Regions from separate parts of the Homo sapiens genome. Here region 1 is linked to region 2. The links come from fine-mapping of genetic effects on gene expression. Tissue or cell type: left ventricle. Region 2 holds a variant in brackets; the other region holds the start of a gene. All regions are shown on one strand. Distances are between the middles of the regions.

Region 1 (7,548 bases), 98 kb before region 2:
ACTCCAGCCTGGCGACAGGGCAAGACTCCGTCTCGAAAAAAAAAAAAAATTCTAGTAAATGAAGCGAGTGATCAGGACAAAACTAGCCTCTCATCAATAAATCAACCAATAGCGCTTATCAAGTATTCATATGTCTGCCTCTTCTTCTAGACTACACTAGGGGCTGGTTAACGCTCCTATGTGCAACAGAACCTCAAACACATCGTAACACACCTTTGGAGAATCCTTACAAGAACACCAACTTAACAGTTCTCTCTGACCACACTACCTCAGCAAAAAACCAGGAAGAAAAAAATATTCTTCAACCCTTTTCAGGGACAGAAAGCATCATTTCAAAAGTCCAAGAAGGGAAGGTAAGAATTTCAAAAGTGAAAGTTATCATGAAAGGCTATAAAAGCTGGAGATGAGTCTGAAAAACAAATGGAAAATGAGTCACTTCAGGGCCTCTCCCAGCCTCAAAGCCAATTAATTATTACATTAGTCAGAGTAATTTTAAGCCTTCCAATCCACTCACCCTAGCCACAGGCAACAGTAGCCTCTCCAAGTGTTAAGGGTTTTTTTTCCCAAGCCTGCAGGCGGATGAGCTTTTTACATGGCAGCCCCTTAGGATTGGATGTGGACCTGCCCTGTCTTTCACCAAGAAGCAAGCACTGCGCAGATCACTGAATCATAAAAACCACCTGCTCTTACCAGCCTCCTCTTCCTCTACAGCAAAACTTCTGACCTGAGACATGGAAGCAGATAAAAAGCCACTACACAAAATGTATCGCTACAACTAGAGGGCAGTTTTGCCTTTCTTCCATTCAATTATTCAGTTTCTCATGTTCCTAAGTGCCAGCCCAGAACCATGGAATGTGAAGAAACACAAAACTCACTCCTCTGCATCAGTGAATTGATTGTGTGGTGGGGATGTAAGTCTGCATATGACCGGCAGGTCCCCAAAGTGGTGCCAAGTCAATCTAAACTAGAGAGAATTTTTCTGGCCAGGCCAAGCAGAGATTTCATGGATGAAGTCTCCCAAAGACTGATTTCCTAAACATTAAACATCACTGGTTTTCCAAAACTGGTTTTCTTTTTTTTTTTTTTTAACCCTGTTGCTCGGGCTGGAGGGCAAGTGGTGCCATCTCCACTCACTGCAGCCTCGACCTCCCAGGCTCCACTGATCTTCCCACCTCAGCCTCCTGAGTAGCTGGGACTACAGGTGTGCACCGTCACGACTTGCTAATTTTTGTATTTTTTTGTAGAGACGGGGTTTTGCTGTGTTGCTCAGGCTGGTCACTCGATCTGCCCACCTGGGCCTCGCAGAGTGCTGGGGTTACAGGTATGAGCCACCACGCCCAGCCCACTGGTTTCCTTTACACCCGTTTTGTTCCCCAGCAGTCCTTATGAGGGCACCTGAAATAAGGAACCTCCTCCCCGACTTGAGAGCAGCAAAGCCTTCAGAGGGAACTAAGTTATTAAAACCCACCCCACACAAAATGCTTCTAAACGCCTTGGCTGACTTAATCCTTGCAGTGTGCTGAGGTTAAGTATGATTATCCATCTCCTGTGAACAGGAAGACTGAGGCTCAGAGCTTAAGTGATTTGCCCACGGTTCACTGCAGGGGATAAAACTCGGCTGTCCCTGGCAGGTCCCAAAGTCACGGCCTTCAGGCTCCCACACCATGCTGCCTCCCTCACCGGGGCTCCACACTCTCAGCCTGGAAAACACGAATTTTAAGAAAACCATGACTTACGAAAAGCAGCCAATCCCAGCATTGGAACCAACAGGGCATAATTCCACCTGCTTCCATCACCACCATCCGCCCTGGAATTAGGCCGGATATTCCAATTTGGGGGATCATTTAGGTTATTCATGGAGATATACCTTGAAGTAAAGAATAAAAACGTTAACTACTTTTATTCAAGAAATTTTTCTTCAGTTTTAACTATGTGCTTGCTGCACAGCACTGAGGCCCTACGGGATTCAAAGAAGAAAAAAACTAGACCAGAGCCGGGCATGGTGGCGGGCACCTGTAGTCCCAGCTACTCGGGAGGCTGAGGCAGGAGAATCGCTTGAACCTGGGAGGTGGAGGTTGCAGTGAGTCGAGGTCGCGCCACTGCACTCCAGCCTGGTGACAGAACGAGACTCCGTCCCCCCCAAAAAAAAAGAAAAAGAAAAAGGAAAAAAAAAACAAGAACTTAAGATGAAAGCGACTCACAATCTGGTTGGGGAAAGTGGAGAAAACAGACATGTCTTAAGCATCTGAAGTGCAGGTAGAATCAGGTAAGTTCTCTGGTACAAATATGTTTAAATGTATGGCTGCTGCGATGGTTAATTTTGTTTGTCAACTTGACGGCATCATGAGGTGCTCAGATACATGGTTAAGCATTATTTCTGGGCGTGTCTGTAAGGGTGTTTTTGGATGAGATTAGCAATTGAACCTTTAAACCAATTCCTCACGTCTCCCTTCTATTTGTTGTGTCTCTGGAGAACCCTCATACAGTTGTATCAAAGATACAGAATCAACTCGATAAAAGTGGGCTCACACCGGACACTTTCATATGAGCTAGGGTTTGAAGAGTGAGCAGCATTTTGACAGGCAGAGAAAGAAGGAAAGGGTCTTCTGATCAGAAGGAAGACTGTGAGGAAGGCAGGGAGGGGTGATGTGGGGAAGGTGCAAACAGTGCTAGAAGCTTCTGAGGCCTCCTCGTGGTGGTGATGAATGCAGAGATTACAGAGTTCTCTGCTTCGGGCTCAGCATGCACCCTCCATAGCTAGGCTGGGGGCTAACGTTAGTAAGAATTTACTGATTTACTGAGTACCTACACGAAGTTTCACATTTTCACAAAGTAGAGTCACTTTAAGTTTGTTTACATGTGACCTCCACAAACACACACAATTACAAAATAGTTTAGTTAATCAAGGGATGTATAATAAACAAGAGGTCGGAGGCCCCGGGCCGCTCCCGCCCACCTCCGCGGACGAGCGCCCCCCTCCGACCCCATTCCCTGCGGTCTGGGCGTTCAGGCCCTTCGGTCTGGGCGATCCCGGAGAACCACCCACGGGGCTTTAAAAATGTTGGTGCCCACCACCTCCCCGGAACAGGGCCCGCTCTACCTCGGTCGGGGAGCGCGGGACCTCAGCGTTCCCTTAACGCCACCGTCCGCGGGTCCGCTTTGCGCAGGCGCGGCGCCCCCACTCAGTACCCGCTCCGGGCGTGGCATGGTGCGCAGGCGCGATGTCCCCCACTGCAGCCCCGCTCGACTCCGGCGTGGTGCGCAGGCGCGGTATCCCCCCTCCCCCGCCAGCTCGACCCCGGTGTGGTGCGCAGGCGCAGTCTGCGCAGGGACTGGCGGGACTGCGCGGCGGCAACAGCAGACATGTCGGGGGTCCGGGGCCTGTCGCGGCTGCTGAGCGCTCGGCGCCTGGCGCTGGCCAAGGCGGTGAGTCCGTGCCGCGGACCGGGGCGGGGCAGGCGGGGGCCGAGGCGGCGGTAGGAGCGGGACGGTCCCCAGCGGGTCCGAGCGGAGCGGGCGCCGGGTCCCTGCGCCCTCTGTCCCGGGATCGGGAAGGGGCTGAGAGAGCCCTGGGCCGGTGCGAGGGGAAGCCGCGGGGCGGACTCGGGGACCCGGGGAGCTCGGTCCTTAGTAGATAGTCCGCGTCCGGGTGAAGGTCACAACCCCGCGGGCTTGCTGGGCGTCCCCTCCGCCGCCTTGGTCCGGGCCTGGGGTCCTGGGACCCCGCGGGCTGAGGTAGCCCCTCGCCTCAGTGCCTGGCAGGTGGACTCGGGGAGGAGTCGTGTCTGCCCAAGGTCACCCGGGCGGATAGCGGCCGGTGGCCGCCCTGGCTGGGCTGGGCCTCTGCCGCCCTCTGTGCGGGTTGTCCTGAGGAGCAGCCCGCAGCCCGTGGGTGGGGCCGGCGGGGCGGGTGAGACCGCCCGGGTGGGTGCGAGGAGTGGCCGGGCTCGGCCCGGTGGGCGTCCGGTGGGAAGCGTGGCGCGCCCGAGCTTAGGCTTGCAGTTCGCCTTTCCAGAAAGCGCAAATCTGTCCATGTCCACTTCGAGACCTTGTAAGTTAAGGGCTTCTACTTTGGGTCGTGTTTGGTGGTCCTTATGCCACCAAAAATGTGCCAGTGTTTAAAAGCAGCTGTGCCAGTTTTTAAAACTCAGGCGGAGAGCTCAGCGCACTGACCGGGCGAGGACGCCGGGACCTGTGCTTGCCTGTGCGCTGAGTGCCTCTAGGGCCGGGCTCGGCTTAGTCCAGGATGGTGGTCAGGGTTATACTTCCCTGAGCCCTTGCTCTCTGAGTGTCTGAATGTGCCCTCTACGATTGCATCTTAAGAATCGGCCTTCTAGGGTTTTATTTAATCAAGCTAAATTGGATAGGTTTAGTTGTTTGGTTCTTTTAAATGAACTTACCCACCCACCTCCTTAATTACAAAGTAATTTTAAATTGCAGAATAAAAATCTCAATAGGAACCAAGGCATTCAGCAATATTGATTTGAATTATGCCTGTAATTGTGCAATTTTCTCCTTTTTGAAATACTTATTAAAAATCTCGTTGAGTTAAATGTGAGGATTAGTCATACAGCCATCCTGCCAACATCAGAAAGCGTGTAAACCGTTCTAGTGTGTTGCTGTGGTTGGTACTGACTGAGCAGAGACCCCTGCCGCATCTTGGGCTTTTAAGAGCTGCTAGGAGGGCGTCCACAAGCAGGAAGGAAAGCCCATGGTCAGTGGGGCTTTTTAGGGGAAATGGTAGCTTGTGATTGGAGAAAAGCTAGAGCTAGTGCCTTTGTCCTCAACCCAGATGGTGCCCGGTGTTCCTTCTGCAGACTAAGACCCTGCCAGCGGCGGAGGCACCTCAGACGGGATGGCAAGATAGCAAAATTGAACCAAAATTTAGTCTTGGGTTTTGTAAAAGTCTTTTTATCTTGATGAAGTTAGCTTTTCCTACAGAAATTCTGCCTGCAAGCAGCATATTTATCGGCATTTCAGATAGGCTTTTTTTCCTGAAGAATTGGAGTTTACGAAGGAACAGCATAATCAAAAAATTAGCAGAAAAAAGAAAGAAATTCGTGATAGCCAACTGAGAAATGTGTTTGGAAAATAGATGCTGAGGATAATTTCAGTAAAGTCCAGAGAGAATTTTTTAACCTCATTTTGGCCAGTTCTGTGGTGTTTTGATCATTCTGTATTTACAACTGCTTTCAAGTGACGAACTTATCAGACTTATTTTGCTTTTGGTTTCTTTTTATGGCCCAGTGCACTGACACAGCTTGCAAACTGTTCGAAAGCAGTTTAATCAGAGGAAAAAGAAAACCAAGAAACTTCAATAGTTACTGGTTAACTGCTTACTTCAGGTGAAGTTTTTCAAATCCCTTAACATGAACATCCAATATATTGTTCTAGGACAAATTGATTTCTTTTCTTTGAATGGATTGTTCTGAATATGTTTAATGGTGTTCTAGAAATACATTATTTAGGCCATTATAGTAGTAAACCTTTGCTTTGCTTCTTGGGATAATTGTAACAACAATGGCATTCCATTCTGCATTCCTCATGATGTTTTTCCTGATTTATTTGAAAAATTGTGACTTGTTTTTTGATATGAAACCTGGATATTAATATTAGTTGGGAGTCTCAGAGATTTTTCCCAAGGGTCTTTAGATAGGGGGGCAAGTCCAGGATCCAGAGCCAGGCCGGCCGACTTGAATCCTCTCTGAGCTCCGTCTTTCCGTGGGGTTAGTGAGGATTCTGTGGGTAATGTTTGAAACCTTTGGTGATGCTCTTGAGAACCAGGGCTCACAGCCTATGCACAGTAACCATGTGTGAACTGAATTTTTTTTTTTTTTTGAGACAGAGTCTCACTCTGTCACCCAGGCTGGAGTGCAGTGGCGCAATCTCGGCTCACTGCAAGCTCTGCCTCCCGAGTTCACGCCATTCTCCTGCCTCAGCCTCCTGAGTAGCTGGGACTACAGGCACCTGCCATCATGCCCGGCTAATTTTTTTGTGTTTTTAGTAGAGACGGGGTTTCACCATGTTAGCCAGAATGGTCTCCATCTCCTGACCTCGTGATCCGCCCGCCTCGGTCTCCCAAAGGGCTGGGATTACAGGTGTGAGCCACCACGCCCGGCCGAACTGTATTTTAAGTATCCCTGTTTTTAAAATAATAAACACTAAAATTCTAGTGAGAATAATTACACGCAGTTGTAAAAGAATCAATGAGTATACCCTCCCTCACCCAGTTCATTTTCCATGAAAGCAATTCCTGTTTCTGATACTGACTCCTGGCATTTGTAATACCTCTGTTTCTTTAGCGGATATGCAGGTGCATTTTTATCAGTTTTAGACTTCTTGCCTAGAGAGGGGATTTAGTTCACTTAAACTACCCTGCTTCCGCTTCTTCCTGATACAGTCGTGCGTTTTTAGGTTCTTCGTTGGCTGCTTTTGTGATTGTGTAGGTTGTACATGCAGATTAGTTTCTTGCTCGTGATTTATAGGTGCGTTGTATTAGATGAGGACCCCTTACTTTGCTAGATTTCGGATATGAATGTCTCTGCACTTCTTACTTTTCCCCTCCACCTCCTAATTCAGTCATCTGAAATTCTGTATTGTTAAGCAAGGTCTAAGTATTCCTTTTAGTTATATGTTCCCCATTTTTTTTCTTGAGGAAATGTTTGATAGTTTCTCCTAAAAAAATTAACAATTGGCACAAAAGACTAGTTTTGTGTCAAAACTAGTTTTGAGTTTTATCTAAAGACTGAAATTGGCTTAAAGTTGGGCTTTCCAAATTCAAAAATCTGCCCCAGATTAGATTTAGATTGAGAGGGTTAGTGTCCTTTTCGCCAGGGGGATGGCGTGATAATTTGTTCAAGATTGTGTTATAGTAGCTGCCCCTTTTAAGCCAGCTCTGTGTGTGTGTGGTGGGGGGTGGGCAGTGGGTCTTCCACATCAACATCCTAGAAAGAACGAATAAACATTGAGTGATCTCACTGTTTCTACTTACATTTGGTATAATATACTGTTCTTACTGGTGCTATTACTATGTTAATAGGGCACTTTACAACATTTTCAAGAACATTTGTATTAAAATTATTTCAAAGACTTCTTTCTTAAAATATGATTTTACCATGCAAAAATTTTACTAAGGTAGAAGAATATTTGTTCTTTCTCATTCATTTTCTGAAAAAAGAAAAAAGCTGAATTAGCTTATACCAATAAAAACAGAGACTAGAAATTGGAGAAATGAAGAATAATTTTTTATCCCACATAATAAGTAATTTCTGAATTGCAAGTATTTCTAAATACTTGAAGACATTCCTCACATCCCCTCTTCTGATTGCATTTATTTCCTAAAGCTTTTTTTTCTTTTCTTTTTTTTTTTTTTGGAGACGTTGTCTCTCTCTGTTGCCGAGGCCGGAGTGCAGTGGCACAGTCTAGGCTCACTGCAGCCTCTGCCTTCTGGGTTCAAGCGATTCTCCTGCCTCAGCCTCCCAAGTAGCTGGGATTACAGGTGCCCGCCACGACGCCCAGCTAATTGTTAGTAGAGATGGGGTTTTGCCA
Region 2 (7,548 bases):
TCTTTAAGCCAGCATTATCCATTGCGGTGCTTTTGGAGTTGGGTGAGGCCGTAGCCTCTGCCAAGTCAAGGAGCCCGGTGGTGGCTGTGGCATTCCTGCAGGGTTGTTTTTTTTTCTTTGAGATGGAGTCTCACTCTTGTCACCCCAGCTGGAATGTGGTGGTGTAAACAGCTCACTGCAGCCTTGACCCTGAGGCTCAAGCGATCCTTCTGCCTTGGCCTCCTGAGTAGCTGGGATCCCAGGCGAGAGTCACCACACCCTGTCCATGTTCCTGCAGGTCTTGATGTGCGAGGACGCTGTGTCTTCCCTGCCACATTTTCTTCTTCTTTCTTGAGACAGACCCTTGCTCCATCACCCAGGCCAGAGTGTGGTGGTGCGAACACGGCTCACTGCAGCCTCGACCCTCAGGCTCAAGCGATCCTCACGCCTCGGACCCCCAAAGTGCTGGGATCACAGGCGAGAGTCACCATGCTGGCCTGAATCTTCAGGGTATTTTACGGTTGAAGTGTCACTTACTTAACCATCCCTGTTTCAGGAGTGTAGGTGGTCACCCTGTCTCTGCCGCTGACCTGGCCTGGACCCTCGGCTGTGAGAGGGAGGGGTGGGCTGGGCTGGAGGAACCTGAAGCCCTCGTGATGTCACAAGCCCATCTGGCTGGGCATCCCCTGCGCTGCACATGCCCCAGGTGGCCCCCACAGCAGAGGCGAGCCACTGGAGGGTGGAGGGCTTCCACGGGACGGTCTTCAGGGGGAGAAGGAAGGGCCCAGGCCCCCAGGAGACTCAGGAGACCAGAGCCTGGGGTCAGGGGCTCAGCCAGGGGCTCAGCCAGGGCTGGATGTCCGGAGCCAGCCCCGCAGCCCTGTGTTCTTCGTTCTTCGCACTCCCACCGTCCGTGTGAACAGCTCCAGCCCCACCTGCGCCTCCCTGTGCTGGGCTCCATCAGGGAGCCCAGAAGACGTGTGTGCTTCTGAAATTGGGTCCCTACATGCCTTTGTCCCAGTGCACCTTGCTCCTTCCATTTACTATCGAGATTTAAATGCCTGTTTTCTCCCCAGAGGTTGACGGATATATTCAGACGTTACGACACGGATCAGGACGGCTGGATTCAGGTGTCGTACGAACAGTACCTGTCCATGGTCTTCAGTATCGTATGACCCTGGCCTCTCGTGAAGAGCAGCACAACATGGAAAGAGCCAAAATGTCACAGTTCCTATCTGTGAGGGAATGGAGCACAGGTGCAGTTAGATGCTGTTCTTCCTTTAGATTTTGTCACGTGGGGACCCAGCTGTACATATGTGGATAAGCTGATTAATGGTTTTGCAACTGTAATAGTAGCTGTATCGTTCTAATGCAGACATTGGATTTGGTGACTGTCTCATTGTGCCATGAGGTAAATGTAATGTTTCAGGCATTCTGCTTGCAAAAAAATCTATCATGTGCTTTTCTAGATGTCTCTGGTTCTATAGTGCAAATGCTTTTATTAGCCAATAGGAATTTTAAAATAACATGGAACTTACACAAAAGGCTTTTCATGTGCCTTACTTTTTTAAAAAGGAGTTTATTGTATTCATTGGAATATGTGACGTAAGCAATAAAGGGAATGTTAGACGTGTGGTCTGCCTTCAGCTTTTCAAATCAAATAGGTCCAAGAACCAGGCCCCGTGCCCTGGTCCTCCAGACAGTCAGTGTCAGATGTTCTGGCTTGCCTGGGACCTCCCAGGGTACCGGGCACCTTCTGGAACATTGTCCAGCCCAGCGTGCACAGCTCTGCTTGTGAAAATCCAGAGGGACTGTCTCACCCTCTGTTCAGGAGGTTAAATTTCATAAGACTGCTCCTTTTGGATGAAGAAATCCAATTTGGTATAGCAGGTTGTGCATTTCCATCATTAATGATTTAGCCATGCTGTGCCCTGCAGTCTCTGCACGTGGCCTGCAGCGTTTGTCCACCCAGCGCATCCTGCTCACCTCGGTCCACTGCCAGCGCTGCCCGGTCCGCCTCCCTGCCTCACTGTGCAGCGCCGGCCCTCCTGGGTTGACACTCCCGAGGCCCAGCCTCATTCTCCAGACGCTTCCCTTCCACAGTGATGCGTCTGGTTTTGGGGCTGCAGCCTCTGGTCTCAGAAAGCCTGCTCCTTCCACCCAGTTGTGCACGACTTTTCTCTGTTCGTTTTGGTCTCTTGGGATCTGTTCAAACCTCTGCTCGGTGTGTTGAGGGGTGAGGGGCAGGGAGCATGGTTTCCTGGAAAAAGCCCCCAGTCTCTTAAGCTGGGCAGGTGTGCTGTGGGGGGTGGGGACTGGGGCTGCTTCTGTGCTCCAGATGAGACCTCCCCCACTGCCCAACTGCACTTGGCCTGGGGCCCTCTGGATACGAATCCCTCTGGAGCAGGCACTCCAGGCTCCCTGGGGATGGGAGGGGGAGGGATGTGGGCTTGGGGGTCTGGCTGCTCCCTCATGACCTCAGTCATGGGGATCCCAGGGCAGTCTCTGAGGATCCCCAGCAATCCACGCCGGGTGCCTCCCTAGACCTTGACACCCCCATGACTCTGCAGCAGATGACCCCAAGTTCTACTCCATGAGGTCAACTTCCTTGTCCAGGCCGCAAGCTCCCAATTCCATGAGGCCTTCCTCACCCAGGCCTCCACGGCCAGGCGCCCAGCGACTTCTCCCTCGCCTCATGGGCACCTGGACTCAGTGTCCAGTAGCTGCACCCACCCCACCCTGGGAGCTGCCCTCACTCCTCCTTCAGCCTTAGGCCTGTGAGGTCTCTGTGCTTGGGGTGAGGGCAGCTGCTGCGGCCACCCTGCAGCCCTCCCAGCCACGTCTCCAGGCCCTTGCCCGTGCTGTCCCCTGTGCAGTGGGCAACCCCCACCCCACACCTGCAGCTTCTCTGGCCTCTGGATTCCTACCTGGGTCAGGGAAGCCTGCTACTCTGGAGGAGCTGTCAGCCCTGGTGAGACACCTGCCCCCAGCACATGTCTCCATGGATGATACGGGCCAACAGTTGATACCAAGGCCGATGTGCTCATCCTGTGGATCAGCTGCCGGGGAAGGAATGTTGTGTGTGGCGGTTAGCTCCATACTCCTAGAAAGCAGGCGAAGGCCAGGTGAGACGGAGACTTTCATAGAGAAAAGGTCAGATTGTGGATGATTTTCCTTCCTTCCTTTTCACAGCAATGAGAGGTTCCTCTGATGGAGATAAAGTGTGTTTCTCAGGTCTCTGGTATGCTCAGGTGTGGCAGGTTCACAGGTGTGAGGTACACTCAGGTGTGTGGTGCAGGTACCCTCAGGTACTCTGCACGTGGCTGCCATGGGGGCTCCTGTTTGCAGGCAGCTCGGGGAGGCTGCCTTGGAGAGGGGCCTCCATGAAGACTCACAAGAACAAAAGCCGCTGAAAATTCCAGAGCAGAAGTTCTTCAGCAGAGGGTGAGGAGGGCGGTGGGGCCGCTGCACCACACGCTTGGAGGACCAGCAGGGGTAGAGCGCTGGACAAACGCATGTCAGGCCGGCCTGCTGGCAAAGGAACCCCTGGATGCAGAGAGCCTGTTGGGCTGGTGGGCTGTGGCTGTTGGGAGGGACATTTCCCCGGGGAGCTCCCAGCCATCAGAAGTCAAGGGAGGGAGGCGGTGAGGAGCCTCTCGAAGCAGAAGGTGTGGAGGGGGGACTCCCCTGCTCTCCTGGCCGGAGTCACTGATACAAAACTGGGGGTCCCTGGAGGGCAGTGAGCTCACGAGTTGTGGTGGATTCCTTGTGGAGGGGGTGCCAACCCGCAGGGAAGCAGGGCTGCCGTGCCCCCTGCCCAGCCACACTGCCAGCACAGACCCCATCCTCAGGCGCCTGCAGGGAGGCCACCCACGCCTTCCTGGGTGAGGGAAGCCCCTGAGCTAAACCTCACTGCACTCTGAGGCCCCAAGGGCCAGGCAGCTGCACACAGCCTGGGCCACGTGGGGGCAGTGCGGCTGCACCACGGAGCTCTCGGGAGCTGCTGACTGACCGGGAGGACCTGCCCGACACAGCCATGGGATTTATAGCCGCAGAGAGAAGACTACAGAGAGACGGGCCTTCGCCCTTTCAGCTCTCCCTTGTCAGGCAGGCTGTGCCCTGTGACCCTTCAGAGCCTGGGTTTGGGGGTGGAGGGGGTGGACAGCTGACCA[G/T]GTGCCTGGCGCAGGCCCAGTGTGGTGAGGCTGGGTCGCGGAGGCCAGGCCAGGCCAGCGGCCACGACCACCCACCAGGGACCCTCAGCGTCACGACCCCGGTCCCAAGACCCAAGACAGCAGGACATGGGGGCACAGCCATCTCTGGGGGCCTCTCCTTCCCCCCGCTCTGGGTCCTCAGTCATCAGTGCAGACATGGAGGTGCAGGTGCACGCCGTACACCCTCACCTGGGGCCCCTGGCCCATGCCTCCCCACCCTCCCTACCCTGATCTCCCCCCACAACCCTACACCTCCCCGGACAACCCTGCACCTCCCCCAACAGCCACCCTGCACCTCCCCGCCACAACCCTGCACCTCCCCCAACAACCCTTCAACTCCCCTCTCACCTTGCACCTGCCCCTCACCCTGCACCTCCCCCCATCCTGTACCTCCCCCCTTCACCCTCCACCTACTCCCAACCCTGCATCTCCCCCCAACCCTGCACCTCCCCACATCCTTCACCTCCCTCCTCACCTGGCACCTCCCCCCATCCTTTCCCTCCCCCAATCCTTCACCTCCCCCCTCCCTTCATCTCCCCCCTCACCCTCCACCTCCCCCCCGCACCCTGCACCTCCCACCCTTACCCTGCACCTCTCCCCATCTTTTACCTCCCTCCCACCCTGCATCTCCCCCCAACCCTGCACCTCCCCCCATCCTTTATTTCCCCCCACCCTGCATCTCCCCCCAACCCTGCACCTCCCCCCATCCTTTACCTCCCCCCACCCTGCATCTCCCCCCAACCCTGCACCTCCCCCAATCCTTCACCTCCCCCCTCACCCTCCACCTCCCCCCCTCACCCTGCGGCAAGCAGAGAGCTGACTCCAGCACAGTGAACTTGGAATGATGGAATGCACCCTGGAAGCAGCTCTGACGGGCGCCACCGTGACTGTGCCCAGCAGGGAGCTCCCTTGTGGTTTTTAACAAAAGACAAAATTCCCCAGGTCCTTCTCTGTGCTACAGGAGAAACTGGTGTGGGAGAGGGAACCCAGGCGTGACCAGGGAGAAACTGGTGTGGGAGAGAGAGGGAACCCAGGCGTGACCAGGGCTGCCCAAGCGGCTCCCTGTGAGGCATCAACGCTGGAGACACAGCAGTCATGGGGAACCCGGGGAACCCGGGAAACCCAGCCGCCATCAGAGAGCCAGAGAGCCGCAGGCGCCTGTGCGGGGTCCTGGCCTGGCCCGAGGGGTCAGCACACCCCTGTCTGCCTCTGAGGTCAGGGCCCTGGGGGCTCCTGACCTGGCCTGCCTGTGGGAGGCAAAGGTGTGGCCAGGAGAGGACAGGAGGGGGCAGTCACAGTCACCACTCCTGGAGGCCCATGAAGAGCAGCTTTGCCCCCACACTTCTGTGAAGCCAACTTGGGCCTGTTTGGGAGGGGCCTGGCGCTGCAGCCGGCCGTGGGCACCTGCCATGTGGCGGTCCACTGGAGGCCAAGTCCAGCTCATATGGCTCTGGGGACCCACCGCACCAGACTCCAGTGTGGGGGTACCCGGAGCTGGGGGTGGGTCCTCGGAGGCTTCCAGTCCTGCCCCAGCTGCCATCCCTGCCAGGTGTTAGCGCCTCTGGTTCAGAGTCCCGAGAGGACCAGTGGCCCAGGAGAAAGGGGTGTGTCTCCAGCTGCTGGGAGTGTGGGTGGGAGCCAGAGGGTTCAATGACACTGGGGACAGCAAGTCCGGACTGGAGGGAGGAGACCTCCTGAACAGGGTCCCCAGCACAGAGGCAGAAAGGAGACTCTGTGACTGGGGGTGTCAGCTGCATCTGGACCTTCGTGGTGGGGAGGGAGGCACGCCCAATAGCCCGTCTGAACGGGAGGTGGCTCAGGGATCCCCCATTGTGCTGGTGGGGTGCCCAGAGACTCCAGGACTCCACGTGGGGCTCTGCCTGCTAAACCCTGAGACTTTAGGGGCAGTGGCTCCCACGGCAGGGTCATCCTTTTTCTGCACAGTCCCACTGGCTGCCCCAGGTCCTGCAGAGACCTGAGACTTTGGGGACAAGCACAGGGGACAGGTGGGCGTGGATGGCCTGTGCCGGTCAAGGGCAGTGGGAAGGAAGGAGGAGCAGTTTCCTTCTGTACCCAGGAAATAGAGTAACAAAGTGTCTCATTCCAGTTGGTTCTGGTGGGACAGGGTAGGTGGAAGGGAACCCGTGCTTGCCCTGAGACATGGGGGTGCTGTCTTCCCATGCAGGGGGACTGCGGCTCACCACCATCACATTCTACCCACAGGTTCTTATTTTAACAGATCACAAAGGTACTATGTGCTTCTTGCAAAAATTTACAGGAATTGTAGACTTTTCAAAAAGTAAAAAGAAATTAAAGTTCACCTGTTACCTCAGAGTTATCCAGCTACACATTTTCTGTGCATAATTCACTTTACAAAAATTGGATCAAGATAAAACTAATGATTTTTAAAAATACAGCAATATAGTTGCACATTGTTCCATATCAAAAAATAAATGTGTGCACCCAGGGCTCCTGGCTGTCTCAGTGGCATAGTGGCTCATGCCTGTAATCCCAACACTTTGGCAAGCCGAGGTGGGTGGATCACCTGAGGTCAGGAGTTCGAGACCAGCCTGGCCAAGATGGCAAAACCACTATCTACTTAAAAAAAAAAAAAAATTAGCCAGGTGTGGTGGCGCGCGACTGTAATCCCAGCTACTTGGGAGGCTGAGGCACGAGAATCGCTTGAGCCCTGGAGGCAGAGGCTGCAGTGAACTGAGATCGCACCACTGCTCTCAGGCCTGGGTGACAAAGCAAGACTCTGTCCCAAAAAAGCCCATTTACTCAGCTCACATTTTTGAGCCTCTGCTATTCGACAGGAACCAGAGGTGAGCAGAGCCGACTTGGTGACCCCTGGGGACAGAGCGGCAGAACTCAGCAATTCTGGGCTGCCCTGCAGGAGCTACACCCGGGGAGGGGCGGTGGCCACTTGGGGGCAGGGTGGGCTTCTCAGCTGCGCCCACCCCACCTTGGGAGCTGTGTCTGGAAAAGAGACTTTTCCTGAGCCGACAGCAGACAGCGAGTGCAAAGGCCCCAAGGCCCGCACGCCTTATTCAGAGAACAGCAGGAGGCGCGGGGCGGGTTGGGGGCGTCAGGGAGACGGGGTTTGACTGAGAACCTGGGGGCGCCAGTGACAGCCTCGGCCGCGTTGCTGAAAACCGACCTTGCGGGATGAAGAGGGCGCGGTTCCCCCGGCTGGGATGAGGACCGCGGATGCTGAGGAGCGGACTCCAGGGACCACCGACTCCATGGCCGGCCCCAGCGAGGGCGAGAACGGGTGGAAGCCGGCCAGGGTCTGTGGAGACGTCAGGGTGCGAGGCCAGGCTGAGGTGTCCCCAGGGATCCCCTGAGGGTACAGGGA

Evidence for each region. PIP is the estimated chance that this variant, and not a neighbour inherited with it, causes the effect.
Region 1: it holds the start of SDHA, and the variant in region 2 is fine-mapped to the expression of SDHA in left ventricle (GTEx, PIP above 0.99). The same link has a PIP of 0.9 or more in atrial appendage and tibial artery.

Annotation. Positions count from the first base shown.
Region 1 is chr5:214,993-222,540 of GRCh38, forward strand. SDHA (succinate dehydrogenase complex flavoprotein subunit A) reads left to right here and starts at 3,328. Exons shown (of 15, transcript NM_004168.4): 1 at 3,328-3,426. The coding sequence starts at 3,364. It overlaps CCDC127 (coiled-coil domain containing 127), which reads right to left and starts at 3,161. Exons shown (of 3, transcript NM_145265.3): 1 at 3,101-3,161; 2 at 1,737-1,867. The coding sequence starts at 1,857. RefSeq lists silencers at 3,139-3,468, 3,699-3,938 and an enhancer at 3,338-4,146.
Region 2 is chr5:313,362-320,909 of GRCh38, forward strand. The region is part of intron 3 of PDCD6-AHRR (PDCD6-AHRR readthrough (NMD candidate)); the gene reads left to right. It overlaps PDCD6 (programmed cell death 6), which reads left to right. Exons shown (of 6, transcript NM_013232.4): 6 at 1,056-1,613. The coding sequence ends at 1,154. Among named protein-coding and RNA genes, the nearest start is that of AHRR, 4.6 kb to the right of the region's middle. RefSeq lists an enhancer at 5,156-5,455. The variant G/T (reference allele first, on the strand shown) is at 4,152.